2 linked regions of the Homo sapiens genome follow. The protein of the gene in region 1 interacts with the protein of each later gene in a pairwise test. Each region holds a gene or a part of one and is shown in the gene's direction. Other genes may lie near its edges. The genes, in order: NIBAN3 and BAG3.

The links.
Region 2: the proteins of NIBAN3 (region 1) and BAG3 interact in binary tests that used the Homo sapiens proteins (3 or more experiments, as listed by UniProt).

The regions. Positions count from the first base shown.
Region 1 is NC_000019.10:17,551,115-17,554,310, forward strand, and holds the end of NIBAN3 (protein Niban 3), read left to right. Parts: intron 1-671; coding exon 672-784; coding exon of another isoform or gene 785-878; 3' UTR 879-2,198; downstream 2,199-3,196.
Region 2 is NC_000010.11:119,675,228-119,678,489, forward strand, and holds the end of BAG3 (BAG family molecular chaperone regulator 3), read left to right. Parts: intron 1-1,236; coding exon 1,237-2,055; 3' UTR 2,056-2,592; downstream 2,593-3,262. UniProt on the Homo sapiens protein: Co-chaperone and adapter protein that connects different classes of molecular chaperones including heat shock proteins 70 (HSP70s), e.g. HSPA1A/HSP70 or HSPA8/HSC70, and small heat shock proteins (sHSPs), e.g. HSPB8.

The DNA.
Region 1 (3,196 bases):
GAGATGGAGTGTCGCTCTGTCACCAGGCTGGAGTGCAGTGGCAGCATCTTGGCTCACTGTAACCTCCACCTTGCGGGTTCAAGCAATTCTCCTGCCTCAGCCTCCCCAGTAGCTGGGATTACAGGCGTCCACCACCACGCCCGGCTACTTTTGTATTTTTAGTAGACATGGGGTTTCACCATGTCGGCCAGGCTGATTTTGAACTCCTGACCTCAGGTGATCCACCTGCCTCGGCCTCCCAAAGTGCTGGGATTACAAGCGTGAGCCACTGCACCCGGCCTACATTTCTTTTTTTTTATTTTTATTTTTTGAGATGGAGTTTCGCTCTTGTCACCCGGGCTGGAGTGCAATGGCGCGATCTCGGCTAACTGCAACCTCTGCCTCTCGGGTTCAAGCGATTCTCATGCCTCAGCCTCCCGAGTAGCTGGGATTACAGGCGCCCACCACCATGCCCAGCTAATTTTTGTATTTTTAGTAAAGATGAGGTTTCACCATGTTGGCCAAGCTGGTCTTGAACTCCTGATCCTTGGTCTCCCAGAGTGCTGGGATTACAGGCATGAGCCATTGCGCCCAGCCAACATCTCTATTAACTCTGATTTTTTAAGCACTTATTACATGCCAGGCATCTGACACATCTGATTTTTGACGTCCGTATATTTTCCATTATACAGATGAGGAAACTGAGGCTGAGCGGGAAGGAGGGGCTTGTCCCAGGCAGCCAGACTCTGGTGCCCAGATCCAGCCACTCTGCCCACCGCCTTCTCCAGGAACATTCCGGAGCTGAATCTTCACCCACATCTATCTTGTTTCTATTGGATAAATGTCTACAAGTGGAATTTCTGGGCCAAAACGGATGTGCCATCTTTAGGCTTTTGTAACCCCTGCAACTTCAGAAAACTGTACCATTTTATACTCCAAGCAGCAGCATTTATTTGTGTATTTTCCCCAAGGCTTTCTTTATTTTAATTTTTTTTTTTTTTTTGAGACTGAGTCTTGCTCTGTCACCCGGGCTGGAGTGCAGTGGCAGGATCTCGGCTCACTGCAACCTCCGCCTCCCGGGTTCAAGCGATTCTCCTGCCTCAGCCTCCCGAGTAGCTGAGATTTCAGGCACCCGCCACCATGCCTGGTTAATTTTTGTGTTTTTAGTAGAGATGGGGTTTCACCATGTTGGCCAGGCTGGTCTCGAACTCCTGTCCTTAAGTGATCTGCCCCCCTCAGCCTCCCAAAGTGCTGGGATTACAGGTGTGAGCCACCACACGTGGCCTAATTTTTTTTTTTTAAATAATAGAGACAAGGTCTCGCTATGCTGCCCAGGCTGATCTCAAACTCCTGGACTCAAGCAATCCTCCTGCCTTGGCCTCCCAAAGTGCTAGGATTATAGGAGTGATCCACTATGTCCAGCCTCCAAATCCTTTCTAAACACTAGGACTTTTCATGAAAAGAAAAAAGCTATGCCAGTTAGACACACACAGAAATCTCATGATTTTATTTTGAATTTCTTTGACTAAATTGAACTTACAAATAAGTTTATTATGGCCAGGCGTGGCAGTGCACACCTGTAATCCCAGCACTTTGGGAGGCTGAGGCGGGCAGATCACTTGAGCTCAGGAGTTCAAGACCAGCCTGGCGAACATAGTGAGACCTCATCTCTACAAAAAATACAAAATTAGCGGCCGGGAGTGGTGGCTCACGCCTGTCATCCCAGCACTTTGGGAGGCTGAGACAGGTGGATTGCTTGAGCCAAGGAGTTTTGAGGCCAGCTTGGGCAATGTGGTGAAACCTGTCTCTACTAAAAAATAAAATAAATAAATAAATAAATAAATAAATAAATAAATAAATAAAATTTAAAAGAAGCTGGGCTGAGATGGGAGATTTACCTGAGCCTGGGAACTCAAGGCTGCAGTGAGTGGTGATTGCACCACTGCACTCCAGCCTGGGTGATGGGAGTGAGACCCTGTCTCAAAAAACAAAATCCAAATATGTTGATTAGCCATTTACATGTTTGTAGTTTTTTTTTTTTTAATTTCAGTGAATTGCCTGTTCATAGCTTTTTTCTACTTTTCAGGAGTGTTTGCATTTTTCTTATTGATATCTAATAACTCTTTATATCTGAAGGATATGAACGCTTTGTGATACAGGTTACAGATTTTGGGGTTTTTTTCTCCGCTTGCTGTGAGCCTTTTGGGTTTGTTTCCTAGCTCCAAATCTTAACTTGGTGTCAAGTTTCCTGGCTGGGAGACAAGCTTTTACCGACTTCCTCTGCTTGCCAGCAAAGTCATCTGCTAACTGGATATTGGCAGCTTCTCTGCTGTCTTGCAGCTGCTTCCGGAGTGGGTTCCACAGGGATTCCCGTGTGTTCTTGGTTCAGCTTGCAGAGGGACTTTCACACTCCCTGGAGACCGTTTCCTCCCATTCTGTCTGGAGTTTTCGGCCTACCCCAAGACAATGAGATATTCCTGACCTTTCCACCTATTTCCCTCCAACCCCACCTTCCGAAATACATTTGCTCAATACATTTGCACTTCATAGGCTTCTTTAGCTGTCTTCCTTTTACCCCGGACGGGATGTAGATGTTAATTCTGGAACAATTGCAGCTACAAGAATTTGTCATCCTGCCCCTTTTGAGAAAAACATTGTTTGCCCTTGGGTCTAAATCCTTCCAGATGGGATGGGATGTATCTTGTCACCTCCTTTTTCTTACTTAATATGAAAAGACCTTTCCTCATCAAGTCCACAGAGTGTAAATTTGTTTTTACCTTTTTTTTTTTTTTTTTGAGACGGTGTCTCACTCTGTCACCCAGGCTGGAATGCAGTGGTGCGATTTTGGCTCACTGCAACCTCCACCTCCTGGGTTCAAGTGATTCTCCTGCCTCGGCCTCCGTAGTAGCTGGGATTACAGGCGAAGCGCCACCATGACCGGCTAATTTTTTGTGTTTTTAGAAGAGATGGGGGCTTCACCATATTGACCAAGCTGGTCTCGAACTCCTGACCTCAAGTGATCCGCCTGCCTCAGCCTCCCAAAATGCTGGGATTACAGGCGTGAGCCACTGCACCTGGCCTGTATCATTCTTAAAAATTAAGTTTTAGCGGGGCATGATGGCTCACTGGTAATCCCAGCAGTTTGGGAGGCTGAAGGGGGAGGATTACTTGAGACCAGGAGTTTGAGAACAGCCGGGGCAACATAGCGAGACTCCAT
Region 2 (3,262 bases), on another chromosome or scaffold:
GAAGCTAAGGTGAGAGGATCACTTGAGGCCAGAAGGTTGAGGCTGCATTGAGCTGTGATAGCCCCGCTGCACTCCAGCCTGGGCAACAGAGTGAGACCCTGTCCCCCACAAAAATCTATATATCTATATGGCTGTAGTTTATAGTCACAGGAAAACCTGTGCAGCCAGAGGTTAGCACAGAGGCGCTGTGTCATTGCTGAATGTTAGGCTACAGCACAGCTATCCTGAAGCAAAATTGTTCTGGAGTTAACCATTTAGAGCATCTTGGCTAATCCTAAAAAAATACATTGGTCTGGGCAGAAACTACTAGGCTGTCACGGTTTTAAAAAAAGAAGATCGTATCTTTTCTAAAACAGGAGACAAGAAGATCACACCGTGAGCAGACTGTCTGCACAGTGTAAGGAAGAAGGACCAGAGGCAGCGACTCCAAGGCTGCAACACCTGAGAGCTGGAGTCACTCAGGACTCTGCTCTGAGTCAGCCTAGTTCAGCAGTCAGCATGAGTTTTTGCTATTTTTTTCCTTCTTTCCTTCCTTCCTTCCCTCCTTCCCTCCCCCTCCCTTCCCCCCTTCCCCTTCCCCCCTTCCCTGCTTCCTTCCCCCTTCCCCCTTCCCTCCTTCCTTCCTGCCCCCTTCCCCCTTGCCCCCTTCTCCCCTTCCTTCCTTCCTTCCTTCCCCCCTTCCTTCCTTCCTTCCTCCCTCCCTCCCTTCCTTCTTTGAGACAGGATCTCGCTCTGTCACTCAGGCTGGAGTGCAATGACATAATCGTGGCTCACTACAGCCTTGAATTCCTGGGCTCAAGCGATTCTTCCGCCTCAGCCTTCTGAGTAGCTGGGACTACGAGTGCAAGCTCCCACACCTGGCTAATTTTTAAAGATTTTTTGTAGGGTTGGGGTCTTACTATATTGCCCAGGTTAGCTATTTTCATTTTTGAAAATTTTATTGGGTTTCTTTTCATTGCCATTAAGAATACCATCTACAGAGAAATTCAGTGAGAGGTAATAGACAAATAGCCTGGGGTGATCAATGGAAGCCTGACTAATGATTGGGTTACATACATGATTAATACCATGTTTTTATTTTGTAACAGCCATTGATTGACTTTGAAAATCTTTTATACTATTAAACTTTTTTTAAAAAGCCATTTCTCAGTTTTCTTTCTAATCTGTACTAGCTACAAACAATTTCTGTGACTTTCAGTCAGTTATTAAAAATATATTTTTGTGTCCTTTTTTCAGCAGCCCATGACCCATCGAGAAACTGCACCTGTTTCCCAGCCTGAAAACAAACCAGAAAGTAAGCCAGGCCCAGTTGGACCAGAACTCCCTCCTGGACACATCCCAATTCAAGTGATCCGCAAAGAGGTGGATTCTAAACCTGTTTCCCAGAAGCCCCCACCTCCCTCTGAGAAGGTAGAGGTGAAAGTTCCCCCTGCTCCAGTTCCTTGTCCTCCTCCCAGCCCTGGCCCTTCTGCTGTCCCCTCTTCCCCCAAGAGTGTGGCTACAGAAGAGAGGGCAGCCCCCAGCACTGCCCCTGCAGAAGCTACACCTCCAAAACCAGGAGAAGCCGAGGCTCCCCCAAAACATCCAGGAGTGCTGAAAGTGGAAGCCATCCTGGAGAAGGTACAGGGGCTGGAGCAGGCTGTAGACAACTTTGAAGGCAAGAAGACTGACAAAAAGTACCTGATGATCGAAGAGTATTTGACCAAAGAGCTGCTGGCCCTGGATTCAGTGGACCCCGAGGGACGAGCCGATGTGCGTCAGGCCAGGAGAGACGGTGTCAGGAAGGTTCAGACCATCTTGGAAAAACTTGAACAGAAAGCCATTGATGTCCCAGGTCAAGTCCAGGTCTATGAACTCCAGCCCAGCAACCTTGAAGCAGATCAGCCACTGCAGGCAATCATGGAGATGGGTGCCGTGGCAGCAGACAAGGGCAAGAAAAATGCTGGAAATGCAGAAGATCCCCACACAGAAACCCAGCAGCCAGAAGCCACAGCAGCAGCGACTTCAAACCCCAGCAGCATGACAGACACCCCTGGTAACCCAGCAGCACCGTAGCCTCTGCCCTGTAAAAATCAGACTCGGAACCGATGTGTGCTTTAGGGAATTTTAAGTTGCATGCATTTCAGAGACTTTAAGTCAGTTGGTTTTTATTAGCTGCTTGGTATGCAGTAACTTGGGTGGAGGCAAAACACTAATAAAAGGGCTAAAAAGGAAAATGATGCTTTTCTTCTATATTCTTACTCTGTACAAATAAAGAAGTTGCTTGTTGTTTGAGAAGTTTAACCCCGTTGCTTGTTGTTCTGCAGCCCTGTCTACTTGGGCACCCCCACCACCTGTTAGCTGTGGTTGTGCACTGTCTTTTGTAGCTCTGGACTGGAGGGGTAGATGGGGAGTCAATTACCCATCACATAAATATGAAACATTTATCAGAAATGTTGCCATTTTAATGAGATGATTTTCTTCATCTCATAATTAAAATACCTGACTTTAGAGAGAGTAAAATGTGCCAGGAGCCATAGGAATATCTGTATGTTGGATGACTTTAATGCTACATTTTAAAAAAAGAAAATAAAGTAATAATATAACTCAAAATGGTTTTTGTGGTTTCTAAATCTTTGAAAGCAGTGGCATCATGGAGATTGTCTGTCCCTGGTTTCAGTCAGAATAAATGACAGGTGCATTTAACAAGCCTGCTTTGGGTTTTGTGACGTCTCCAATAGCCCGGCTCAAGAGAGAATTGTCTTGGTCACCTTTCAGTCTCAGATTGCAACAGGAACCTGGGAAGACTCAGGGCTGTGAACTCCGGTAATGGGAACATGCCTGCTGCATCCGTTCGGACCGACCCAGCCAACAGCCAAGGTGCCAGTTAGGTAGCATGTCTGCCCACCTGTCCTCAGGCCTCACCAAGAAGCTGAGATTGTCCAAAAGTGCCCAGAGGGCCTGGCGCAATGGCTCACACCTGTTATCCCAGCACTTTGGGAGGCCAAGGCAGGAGGATCCCTTGAGGCCAGGAGTTTGAGACCAGCCTGGGCAACATAGCAAGACCCTGTCTCTACAAAAAACAAATCAGCCAGGTGGTGGCATGCGTCTTCAGTCCCAAGCTACCAGGGATGCTGAGACGTGAAGATAGTTTAAGTCCAAGAGATGAGGCTGCCGTGAGCTGTGATCCCGCCACTGCACTCCAACCTGGGCAACAGAGTTGAGACCCTGTCTCTAAAAATTAAAAAAGGAAGCGCACAGGGAAGCCAGCTCCCACTATTGC